3 separate regions of the Homo sapiens genome follow, and all the other regions are linked to region 3. Evidence: fine-mapped expression QTL. A gene starts in region 3. Each other region holds a variant in brackets. All regions are shown on one strand. Distances are from middle to middle. Region 1 overlaps KSR2 (kinase suppressor of ras 2). Region 2 overlaps RFC5 (replication factor C subunit 5). Region 3 holds the start of WSB2 (WD repeat and SOCS box containing 2).

The links. PIP is the estimated chance that this variant, and not a neighbour inherited with it, causes the effect.
Region 1: its variant is the best candidate, but not a certain one, in a credible set for the expression of WSB2 in tibial artery (GTEx, PIP 0.50).
Region 2: its variant is the best candidate, but not a certain one, in a credible set for the expression of WSB2 in whole blood (INTERVAL, PIP 0.81).

The regions. Positions count from the first base shown.
Region 1 is chr12:117,886,781-117,891,004 of GRCh38, forward strand. The region is part of intron 1 of KSR2 (kinase suppressor of ras 2); the gene reads right to left. Among named protein-coding and RNA genes, the nearest start is that of KSR2, 80 kb to the right of the region's middle. The variant A/G (reference allele first, on the strand shown) is at 2,673.
Region 2 is chr12:118,026,551-118,030,774 of GRCh38, forward strand. It overlaps RFC5 (replication factor C subunit 5), which reads left to right. Exons shown (of 11, transcript NM_007370.7): 8 at 339-468; 9 at 1,403-1,480; 10 at 3,221-3,275. Among named protein-coding and RNA genes, the nearest start is that of RFC5, 12 kb to the left of the region's middle. The variant G/A (reference allele first, on the strand shown) is at 2,124.
Region 3 is chr12:118,059,196-118,063,419 of GRCh38, forward strand. WSB2 (WD repeat and SOCS box containing 2) reads right to left here and starts at 1,984. Exons shown (of 9, transcript NM_018639.5): 1 at 1,841-1,984. The coding sequence starts at 1,853. LOC124903030 (a long non-coding RNA gene) reads left to right here and starts at 2,265. Exons shown (of 2, transcript XR_007063479.1): 1 at 2,265-2,485. RefSeq lists a silencer at 1,394-1,443.

The DNA.
Region 1 (4,224 bases), 170 kb before region 3:
GATGTTGAGATGTAATTGTTACATCCTTCTTTTTCTGTTTCTTTTTTGCTATGTATATTTTATCTCATGTGCATGTATTACCTGGCTTATTAAAAAAAATAGTCTTCCCCTATGAAAGACAGAGAATACCTTTTCTTCTTTTTTCATTGTTATATTTTTTTGAGACAGAGTCTTACTCTATCACCAAGGCTGGAATGCAGTGGTGTGATTATGGCTCGCTGCAGCCTCGACCTCCTGGGCTCAAGTGATTCTCCCACTTCAGCCTCCCCAGTAGTTGGGACTACGGGCGCTCATTGCCACACCGGGCTAAATTTTTTATTTTTAGTAGAGATGGAGTCTTGCTCTGTTGCCTAGGCTGGTCTCGAACTCCTGGGCTCAAGTGATCCTTCTACTTCAGCCTCCCAAAGTACTGAGATTACAGGCCTGAGTCATCATGCCCAGCCGGATTTTTTTTTCTTTTCTTCTTTTTCGGTTTTTGTTTTGTTTTGTTTCATTTTGTTTTGTAGAGACAAGGTCTTGCTATGTTGCCCAGGCTGGTCTTAAACTCCTGGGCTCAAGCAACCCTCCTGCCTTGGCCTCCCAAGTGCTGGGATTACAGGCACGAGTGACGGCACCTGGCCCCTTGACTTCCTTTCCATCAAGAGACTAAGAATCAGGCCAGGAGGGAGAGGTTCAGGTGAAGTTTACATGCAAACCCAACTAGGTCAAATCCAGCATACCCAGGCCTGGTGGAACCACGTGGAGCAGAACAGGCCCTTGACCAGTCCTGAGAATCCAGTGTTTCAACAGGAGGTTCTGTGTTAGGGAACTAAAAACCCTCCCCAAAGTGGCTTCAACAAAGGAATTGTTTAGTTACACAGCAATAATCCAGCAGCATGGTGGCTGCCAGGGTTGCTTCACTCAGTGGCTCATCAGCAGTATCAAGGGCCCTGGTAGGGTTGAGATGGCTGTGGCATTTCCATGTGGGCATCAGCAGAAGAATGACCATTCTCACCAATGTTTCCTTTCATGCATTAAAAAATAAAAATAAAAAAAAATTTTAAAAAACTCTCCTCCACTGGCCACCCCTCATATCCCACTGGCCAGGAGTGGGCAGCCACATGGCTATGATCAACCAGTGATTGCAAAGGGAACGTCACTGGCCTAGACCAGTCATGAGCGACATTGTCTCAAGAGCAGGCTGCTCAGATGAGCAAGAACAAAACTGGATTCAGGAAGCAAGGATGACTTTGGATAGGCAAACAGAGTGTCTTCCACACCCAGTGCCTACCTGAAGAAGGGCTTAATGCTTCGTAACAATATTTCCAAGTGTAGCCTTTTCTCCAGCCCCAAAACCCTTTTGAGAATAACCATCAAACTACCAGCATTCTTCAGTTTTCATTTAGATATTTGATCTTCAGTTTTTACGTAGGGCACTTTCAACCATTCTCTTGGAGGCCAGATTCAACCCTGGACAATGCTTCTGGGAATATTCAAAGACACAAACACAAATTTGTATATTTGTATTCAAATATACAAATAAATGTTCCACCATATATCAAAAGTATGCTCTCCAAAAGGACAAATACTCTATGACTCCACCTACATGAGGTGCCCAGAATTGCCAAATTCACAACAGAAAGTACACAAGAGATTAGGAGTGGGAGTGATGGGGAGTGTTCTGAATGTGTGTCCCCAAAAGCCATATATTGAATCCCTAACTCCCAGTTTGATGGTATTTGGAGATGGGGGCCTAGGGAGTGATTAGCTTTAGATGAAGACCTGAGGGTGAAGCCTCCATGATGGGATCAGTGTCCTTCTAGGAACAGGAAGAAACCAGAACTTTCTCTCCACCATGTGAGGACACAGAAAGAAGGTGGCCGTCTGCAAGCCAAGAATAGAGCCCTCACCAGAACCTGGAACCTGACCATGCTGACAACCTGGTCTTGAACTTCCCAGCCTCCAGAACGGTAAGAAGTAAATTTCCATTTTTTTCTATATATGGGAAAATAAATTTAGATTTTATTTCTATTGCTTAAGCCATCCAGTCTATGGTATTTTGTTACGGCAGCCCAAGTTGACTAAGTCAGGGAGTTAGTGAATTTCATTTTGGGGTGATGAAAAAGTTTGAGATGGATAGTGGTGATGGTTACACAACAATATGAATGCACTTAATGCCACTGAACTGTAAACTCAAAAATGATTAAAATGGTAAACATTATGTTACGTATAATTTACCACAATATTTAAAAATGAATGCTCCCACAGGTCTTATAGTGTCTGTCTTACAGGTATGGAAACCAAAGTGCAATCAGGCACTTGAATGATGCACCCAGCATCTTCCATGCAAGTTATGGGTGGAGGTAGAATTGGAACCCAGGTCACCTAACTCCAAGGACGGTGTGCCCCTTCCGCAGCTCAGATGCCTCTCCCAACTCAGGCCACATGTAGAAGGAAAATCCAAGCATGAGAGGCAGTTCACCAGCAACGGAAATCAGATCTCTTGTGGTTATTATTAGCAGGGCGAGCAGCCGGGTGTGGAGGGGACCAGCTGTGAAACTCTCATGGGAGGGGAAGCCAAGGTGAAGTGGAGGGAACTCGTGCCCCCACATCACAGCAGCAAGCTCTGCAGTTACAGAGACCTCAAACTTTCCATCAACAATCCTCACTCGCAGCCTCTTAGCTCTTGGGGG[A/G]AAATTAACACAGGTCCCAGGGCTGAGATTTTCCATGTTTAGTTTCAACCCAAAGGAAAATTTTGTTAGAAAGTTGAAAGAGTGTGACTATTTTTAAATAACGAGACGTGGGGCCATAGTGTCAGCACAGTCAAAAAGGTAAAAAACATTTGTATCTTGCTTTCTTCCACCCTCCCCTTCAATTCAGATGGATAGACTGCAGAAGAAAACAAGGGAAGTTAACACTTCATTCAGAGCTTGCCAAATGTCAGGAACTTGCTTTATCCTGGACCAGGAGTTCTCAACTGTAAGTGATTTTGTCCTCCAGGGGACTTTGGCAATGTCTATAAATATTTTGGTTGTCACAACTTGGAAGATGGGGAGCTGTTACTAAAATCTAGTGGGTAGAGACCAGAATTGCTCTTCAACATCTTTCAATACACAGGACAGATCCCACAACAGGGAGGTATTCACCCCCGAATATCAGTAGTGCCAAGGTTGAAACACCCTCTCCTACTCTAAGAGTCCTCAAACTTGAGCATGCATTAGAAAGCCTTGGAGGGCTTGTGAAAACACAGATTGCTAGAATCCCCCCAACCCCTACTCCCTGCCACAGCTGCTGACTCAGTAGGTCTGGGGAACCATCCAACTTTGCGTTTCTAACAAGTTCCCAGGTGATGCTGATGCTGCTGGTCCAGGGACCGCATTTTGAACAGCACTGTATTGGATCATCCTCGAAAAGGTCTTGAGACAATGGTACTGTTCTTCCTATCTTATGTCTTTGAGATCTAAGGCTCTGAAGGAAGAGAAGTGTTACCTAAAGTCACCCAAGTCACACTGGGTCCCATAAGCTAGTAACTAGTTTGATCTTCATACCAAGATCAGTACAATCTCCAGCCTCTAGGGGTGTCCACAGGCTTTAGAGCCCAGCCACATGTCCACAGAGCACCAGATAGTACCTTTGGTGTGAATCTTCTCTGACATTTACCATCCTCAACAAATGGAGCTTCTGAGCTCCAGAGTAAAGGGAACAACCTTAGAATTCTACAGTAGTGCTCTCCCGAAAACACTGCTTAGAAGTCTAGTCTTTTTAAATAAGCTCACTATTTAAAGGTCCTCTCTGTGTTAAAGCCTTTTGCAGGTTCTAAGAACTTTTCATAGAAGAACCATATTTGTCCATGCTTCCATGCCCAATTTACTTAATGGGAAGACCTATGCATTTGGCAGATCCATTTGATTGCATTTGATTGCATTTGATCCATTTCTTGCATTGTTTATATACCCATAAGCTAGAAATTTTTTCTTCCCACTTAGATGCACCGTGGGACATCTCTCTGCCATATCTTGCATCACACTTGGATGGTGTAATGGAAATAACATTAGACTGGGAGTCAGGAGACTTGTGTTCCAGCAGAAGGGAAAAAGAAGTCTCAGAGTGGAATATTGCAACATCCCATATTCTCCCGAGAAGGGCTGCTGGATTCCCTTGCTGATGAGGAATTACCATGGGGTCACCTTGCTACATGGTTCATCACTGTCATCCCTCCCTTCAGAAAAATTAAATCATTCAAAG
Region 2 (4,224 bases), 33 kb before region 3:
ATCATGCCACTGCACTTCAGCCTGAGCAACAGAGCAAGACCCTGTCTCAAAAAACAAAGAGAGAGCAAAAGAAAATGTTTTAAAAACAAAAGGAATCATTTGTTGCAAAGAAGGCAAAGGGAGGGAAGGATTTGGCACTGGAATAGCCAACAGGCTGTGGCATCCTCTGATGAGGTGACTCTTCCGGTATTGAATATGTGGGTTCCCACTGCCTTGTGCCCATAGAACTTTGCTGCTCACCTGCATTGCTGCCTTGGCAATTTCTTCTTGGCTCCCTGCAGCTTGGTGGCAGCTGTGACAGCCACTGTGATCTCCCCTTTCCCCCTCTGTCTACACAGAGCACCAATATGGCCTTTGGGAAGGTGACAGAGGAGACTGTCTACACCTGCACCGGGCACCCGCTCAAGTCAGACATTGCCAACATCCTGGACTGGATGTTGAATCAAGATTTCACCACAGCCTACAGAAGTATCCTTTCTCATGACCTCCTGGCCACCGAGACCTGAAGGTGGCCCCAGGAGTTCAGGTTGCAGCCAGCACCCACACCTTGCTGGCAAAGGATGACTGGCTGCAGGCGACTCTGGTCAGCTTGTTGTGGGAGTGAGATGTCTGTAGGTGGAGTGGGTACTTGTCTTTAGCACTCCAGAGTTCTTCTTGGAGGGCTCTGACCTTCAAGTCAGGGTAAGGCTTGAAGCAGCTTCACTCACAGATGGGAGAAAAGCTTAGGCCTTGGCATTGAAGATGCAGGAATTTTCAAGTGGTCATGATAGTGATAGCTCTTGTGCTGTGAAATGAAAGGCTAGGAATGGTGACACAAAGCCTTTTTGGAAATGCATTTGGGGCTGGGTGTGGTGGCTCATGCCTATAATCCCAGCACTTTTGGAGGCTGAGGCGGTAGATCACTTGAGGTCAGGAGTTCAAGACCAGCCTGGCCAACATGGCGAAACCCCGTCTCTACTAAAAATACAAAAATTAGCCGGGCGTGGTGGTGGGTGCCTGTAGTTCCAGCTACTCGGGAGGCTGAGGCATGAGAATTGCTTGAACCCGGGAGGCAGAGGTTGCAGTGAGCCGAGGTCATGCCACTGTACTCTAGCCTGGGTGACAGAGGGAGATTCCATCTTAAAAAAAAAAAAAAAGAAAGAAAGAAAAAGAAAACGCAGTTGGCTTTATTCTCTACTAGAAGGAGTTACAACTCTATCTTTCAGAAAGCCCTTACTGAAGATGAAACAAAGAAAAATAAAGAATTGGAGTCCAACACGTGCAGCTTCAAGTTGAAAGAGAAACAGTTGTGTTGGGATTAAAAGCCTTACTTTAAAAAGTCTCTTGCCCGGGTTTGGATTCAAAATTCTCTGCAGTATGTTTGTTCTGGAACTTGTTCCCTTTGCCTTAACTGCTCCTCTAGATATTACAGAGTTGAAAACTCTGAAGGGGTTGGCACTGCATGATATCCTGACAGAGATACACTTGTTTGTGCATAGAGGTAACTTACATTATCCCCCAGCTGAGAAGCTGTGGAGAAGGTAGCCTGCTTTGGGGTTAAGGATGGTTAGGACAGGAGGCTTCATTCTTGAAGCAAAGAAACTAATGAATTGTAAATCAGACCCTTCTTGTTAGCAGTTCTGTCTTGCCACTGTTTAAAATTTTGTTCCAGAGCTGGGTACGGTGGCTCAAGCCTGTAATCCTAGCACTTTGGGAGGCCAAAGCAGGCAGATCACCTGAGGTCAGGAGTTGAAGACCAGCCTGGGCAACATGGTGAAACCCCGTCTCTACTAAAAATACAAAAAATTAGCCTGGCATGGTGGCGCACGCCTGTAATCCCAGCTACGTGGGAGGCTGAGGTGGGAGAATCATTTGAACCTGGGAGGTGGAGGTTGCAGTGAGCCAAGATTTGCCACTGCACTCCAGCCTGGGCGACAGAGCTAGAGTTTGTCTCAAAAAAAAAAACAAAACAAAACACAAAAAACGTGTTCCATAAACCCTCTTTTAATATCTAGAACTGCTGGGGAAAGTGAAAACTCCTGGAGGCTAACTTTATTTCCTCTAGGGGTTTATATTTTATAGCAGTAAGTAGTATATATTAATTCACATTTCTAAAAAAAAAAAAAAAGTCTGTCTATCTATCT[G/A]TCTATCTAGATATATATTCCCAGAAAAGAAAGAGAAGATATGTAAACCATGTAAACCAAAGCAGGCTTAAGGAAAACATCTTAAGTTCCACACTTGCCTGTACCTTCTACACAGAGAATTGGTTCTCAACCTTGGCAGCAGATAGGGGCACTCCAGACAAATTAAGTCAGCTTCTCGGAGGACAACCAGGCATCCGTATTCTCTAAGCTCCCCAGGTGACTTGTGTAGGCTTTCGGAGAAGCTCTTCCTTCCACAGTGGCCAACTGCAAGATGGAGACTTAACCGGGTCAATGAATGTTGGTTCTGCCCAGGCCTTCACAGGCCTCTTCCTGGCTGGCCCATGCCATGCCTTCTGCCCAAGGTATGGTTGGCTCAGGCCCAGCTCTGCACCTTGATTGTGGAAGCTGAGCATAAACCAACTTTAAAAAATCAGTTGTTTGTGCTTGGTTTTTAAATGGGGACAGGATCGGTATAGTGGCTGACGCCTGTAATCCCAACACTTTGGGAAGTCAAAATGGGTGGATCACTTGAGCCCAGGAGTTTGAGACCAGCCTGGGCAACACGGTGAAACCGCATCTCTACAAAAAGTACAAAACAGCCAGGCAAGGTGGCGCACACCTGTAGCCCCAGTTACTCAAGGGTCTTGAGGTGGAAGATCCCTCAAGCCCAAGAGGTCAAGGCTGCAGTGAGTCATGATCACGCCATGCCATGGCACTCCAGCCTGGGCAAGACAGTGAGACCCCGTCTCAAAATAAAGTAAAATATAAAATAAAAACAGCAAGTGGGAACTCAGCATTCAAGTTAACTTGTAGAGCTACCCAGCTGCTAAGAGCAGTGTGATCTTTGGTGCTCTTAGGATCACTTTGGTATCTGCTCATTTTCCTTTTTGTCTACCCTATAAAGCACAAAATCGAGTGGGTAAAAAGTATGAAACCAGCACTGTTTCTACTTTCTTAGAGGTCTGGTATCTAGTGAGCAGGCTGAGGCCTCAGGACTAGTTCAGTGTTAAGGATTTCATGTTGAAACTCATTTGTCCTCTGTGGGTTTTTTGACAGTAGAGAGTGACCTAACTCATTTGATTTTGTTTTTCCCTCAGTTGACTTTCCATCTTCAGTTCGAATACATTTATTGACCAAAATGGCAGACATTGAGTGAGTACTTCTTGCCCCAGTTTTAATTCTTTTCTTCCTTTTTTCCCCTGTTGTGAGTTATTTGTTTCAACTTTCTTGGTTTCAGGTTTTTTTCCTAAATCGTTCACATACGGTACAATCTAGTCTGGTGATATTGAATGGAATGTGGGGAAGGGTGTGAGCTGCTTAAAGAACATGGGGATAAATTCACAGGTCAAGTACAGATCAGTTACATATCTGAGATGAAGGCCTCTCCTTGGACCTCACAGGCTCGGCCCACATTGATTCTGAAAATGCCCTTGTTATTTGGGAGGCCTGCTTTGCTTCAACCACCCAGCTGTTATTAAGGCATTTTGGCATACTAAAGCATATTGGGGGGAAAAGTAAACACAAACTCAATTTTCTGCTTTGCCTGGTTCCGTAAACACTGTTATTAGCCCCCAGTGAAGCTGGCAGCTATCATTTAAGTAGACAGAGCATTGGGTTCAACATAGACGTCAGCATAGGCCAACTCTAATTTGTGGCATTGGCTTTCACAGGCACAAATTAGGTCACCTCTCCTCATTGCATTGTGAATATGATGATTTTGCTATCAGTGGCTGGGCATTTAAAAGGTGGCGAGATGAACTCCAGTGTCCTGCTTTACTGACTAGACCACAGACCCACCAATGTATCAGCCAAACTTCCCGATGAAATGGCTTAAGAGGAAGGAAATCTCTGTTTTGTTTCCCTCTTAACGTATTTTGCCGACGAAATAATCCTTCATTACATAAATTTTGTATATCTGTATAGTTAGGACAAAGTTAAGTTCAGAACACCGCTGTTGACACCTAATAATTTATTTCTTTTTTTGAGACAGAGTCCCACTCTGTCGCCCAGGCTGGAGTGCAGTGATGCAGTCTCGGCTCACTGCAACCTCTGCCTCCCAGGTTCAAGCGATTCACCTGCCTCAGCCTCCTGAGGAGCTGGG
Region 3 (4,224 bases):
ACTTAGCACAAAAAAAAATCTAAAACATTACATTACAATTTATTTGATTACATGTAGCAGGAATATTTTAGACATGTTGTATTGAAAGAGTTTTTAAATTGTCACCTAGTTCTTTTTTCTTTTTTTTAATGTGGCTACTTGAACATTTTAAATTACATACGTGGCTCACATTAGACTTCTGTTGGTCGGGGCTGGCCTAGAGGGTGCCTGGCACATAGTAGACGTTCAACAAATATTTGCTGAATGAATAAGTGAAGTCTAACCATTGCTCTGAAGATTTCAACTGTTGCCCATTGTATTTCCTTTACAATGGGCTTTATTCCATTTGAAAATAAGTTAAAACTCTGGCCTTTTTTGTACAGTAACTTGGCAGCTCTCAACAACCCTGCCCACACCCTCAAAACGAAGTTGTCAATCTTTAGGAAAACCCCAGAACTGGAAACAGATTTCTGTTAAAAAGGCAGGCTAGCTACAGATTGCTTTCAGATTGAACTGTAAGGAGGCAATGGAAATCAAACGGAAGCTATAAAAAGATTCACATAGGATCTACACAAACAGTAGGGGCCCTTTTAAAAAGAATTCTACGGGTAACACTCACTGAAAAGAAAGCCCTTATCTAGATGGGAAGGAGAGAGAGCTGCCTTTAACTCAATGCCTGACTTCAGCAAACAAAGAAATGTCATTTCCTAAATTAAAAAGTAACACCACCCCAGGGAATACCCAGATTTCAACCTTCCCACCCACAGTAACAAGCCATCAGCAATCAGAACCCTCCAGACCAGGATGAAGCTTGAACTTGGCTGCAAGATTACCATGAAGTTCTGGAACAAATTCTGAGCCCTAGGCCTTGAACCTGCTCTGAAAATTTCTCCTAAGGAAATTACATTTAAACTCGGGTCCTTCAAGACCTGGGACTCCCGGAATCAATTCTAAATCTATCCCAAGTGGGGTTCCGAGGGAAGGTCGTTGGAGGGGAGAGGGCCAAGGCGTGCATGCGTCTTGGGGTTTTTTTCCCCTTGCATAAGAGACACACCTTTCCCACTGAGATTTTATGTTCATCTGGGCTGGCTTGAGGTATATCCAATATCCTCTGACTTCCACGCTGTCTTCTGATGGGGATGGCAGTTAACAAGAATAGAGGCAAGGTCCCCACCCATCAGTGTATCCTAAATTTGCCTGATCATACATGTCACCAGGGATCAGCGTCTCCAGTCCCGCCCCACCTCCACTGACTTAATCTCCAGTGGGAGAGGCTGGGAATAGATTGTTTCAATAGGGAACCCAGACCCCAGACCCCATTTTTACCGGGTCCCAGCCACCCTCCGAGGAAGGTACTAGGATTATCCCATTTTGCAGATCAAAACTGAGACGTGGGTGGCGGTGGTTCAGTGGCTTGTCCACTGTCACGATCACACAGCTTGTGAGGGACAGAGGTGACTCCCATCCAGACATGCAAGTGCGTCCCCTGGCACCTGGGTACCCAGGGGCACCCACCCCCTTGGGGATCTCCGTTTTAGGGCTTGGTGCCCCCCGCCCCGAGTCCCACCCGGGAGCCCCCTCTGTCCCGGTCGGGGGATCTCCTCCCGCAGAAGCCCGATCTTCCCGATCCTGTCGCCGGCGGGAGTCAGGGTGGCGGCCACTGACAACGAAAGTGAAACAAAGCTGGTCGCCGGGCGCGCACCCCCGCCGGCCCCGCGCGGACCTCCCAGGCCGGACGCCCCCGCCGCGTCCAGCCCCCGCCCCACCCCGCCCAGCCCGCCCCGGGGTCGCCTCCCCCCTCCCCGGGGAGAACGGGCCAGGGCCCCGCCGGGCGGGAACGGGCGCGCCCGGCCCCACTCACCTCCGGCCTCCATGGAGGACGCGAGCGGCCCCCGCGGCAGGCGGCGGGCGCCTCAGCCCCCCGGGCCGCGGGCCCTCATGCCGCCCCCGCGCCGCCCGCCCCGGCCAGGCCGCCGCCGCCGCCCGGAGAGGCCATCAGCTGCTTCCCGTCACATGGCGGTGGGCGCGGGCGGAGACGCGCGGGGGCGGGGCGCAGGGGAAACGGAGGGGGGGTGCGGACGGGATAAAAACGGTGGGGGGCAGCTGAGGGAAAAGATGGAAAATCGGGGAGGCGGTACGCTGACGGGATAAAAGCTGAGGGGTTGCTCAGGGGAAACGGGGGCGGGGAAGACGCGCGAACCAGATAAAAATGGGGCAGGGGTGGGGGGAGCTGAGCGGAAACGGGGTGGGGCGCGAACGGGATAAAACCCAGGGGTTGTGCGGGGTCCTGAGGGGAACCAGCGCCGGATAAAAACGGGGAAGGGAGGGAGGTGAACAGAGCTGAGGGAAACCGGGAAAAGGGGAGCGATAGAAACCGGAGTAGGGGAAGCCGGGCTCAGGGGAAAAGGGGGTGTTGGAGAGTGGTAGAGCCGGGCTGAGAGAAAAACCAAGCAGGGGAAGCGGCGATCCGGGGAGAACGGAGAGAGGGAGACCGAGGGCTGTGGGGGTAAGGGGAACCAAAGGGGCTGAAGCGAAATCGAGGGGAGGGGCAGGTGAAAATGGAGCCATGCGAAGGCCGATGAGGGGGGAAACGGGTAAAAATGGGGGCGGGAGAAATAGGTTGGAGGGAATACTGGCCGAGAAGAAACCTGGGGAGAGCTGGGCTTAGGGGAAAATGGGGAGGGGGTGGAAGGAAGGTGTAATAACCGGGTGCTGGGGAGGACGTAAGAATTGGGGGGTGCGGCGAGGGTCAAGGCTAGGGTAAAACAAGGGGGGCTACTCAATGGCTCCGGTAATGGGAGAGGGAAGTGAGGAGAACACGGGGCGGTGGGGAGAGGAGGGCAGGGTGAAAACCGGAGTGGGGGTGGGAACGAGATAAAAAACGGGGCAGGAGCGATTCGGAAGAAGACTGTCCCCTTACCTACCTACGGCGACAGCCTCGCCTGTCCCCGTCCCCCTGAGAAACCTGCTCTCCCTGTCTACCCGCATAGCCTCAAGAAATGGCTCGCTTGGGTCAGACGCCCCCTTTTTAACATTCCAGGGCCAGGGCAGGAGTCATCATGGAGGCTTTTCATGCCTGAAAGACCCCATTTCTTAGTTGTCCGGTCCCCAGTAGTATCAGTGGCTTGGGGATTTCTTACTGAGCTCAGCTCATTGTCCCCAAAATGCCTCCCCTTACCCCCAACTCGAGCGCTTCCCTTTCCTGCTTTGGGCCCAAGCTCTTCCCGCGGTTCTTGGTGTCAGCTTCATTCAAGTCACTCTCCCGCCTCTCATTCCTTTCTCCCCGCCTTTCTTCGCTTCCCTCCAAGTGCCCTCTCCATTTGCCGGTCACTGGTCCCAGAGCTCCGGATCGCAGTGGTTCCATTTTAAATTTCTTTGCTTCCTAACGCAACCTATGTTTTCTACGGTAACTGAGGTTCCCGTGTTCTTTTTCACCATGGTCTCTCCGTTTTAATGTTTCGGGTTTTTTTACCCAGGCCCCTGTTTTATGAGCCCTGGGTACGTCCTTCCTGTGTCCCGTTTGGCCTCCTGGGTTACACTCCTGTTCACCCCGCTTGGCCGGTTTTTTTTTTTCTTTTCTTTGAACCTGCCGGTTTCTCAGTCTCCCCCTTTTCCGCTGGCTACCTGTCCCTTTCTCGCCGCCCATGTTAACTTTAGCATGCCCCGTTCTCTCTCTTCATTTTCCACTGGGTATTTTTTATGTTTCCCAATTTTAAAAACGGCCCAGCGCACCCCTTTTTTTGGGACTCCACTTTTATCTCTGGCACCAGTGTCGGCCTCCTCCACCTCTGCTCCCATTTAATCGCTAATTTCCTGCCTCCTGAGGACCCCCGTTTTATTGTCCAGGCTCCCCCCTCCCATTTTTCTCTTCTCTAATTTTCTGAGTCTCCATTTTTTGTCTCCCAAATTCCTTCGATTCCTGGAGTCTTACAGGCCTCGTTTTTATGTACACGTCATGGAAAAGAATAAAAGGGTAAGGTCGCGGGGCGCGATGGCTCATGCCTGTAATCCCAGCACTTTGGGAGGCCAAGGCGGGCAGATCACCTGAGGTCAGGAGTTCGAGACCAGCCTGGCCGATATGGCCAAACCCAATCTCTACTAAAAATACAAAAATTAGCTGGGTGTGGTGGCGGGCACCTGTAAACCCGGCTACTCGGGAGACTGAGGCAGGAGAATCACTTGAACCCAGGAGGTGGAGGTTGCAGTGAGCTGAGATCTTGCCATTGCACACCAGCCTGGGTGATG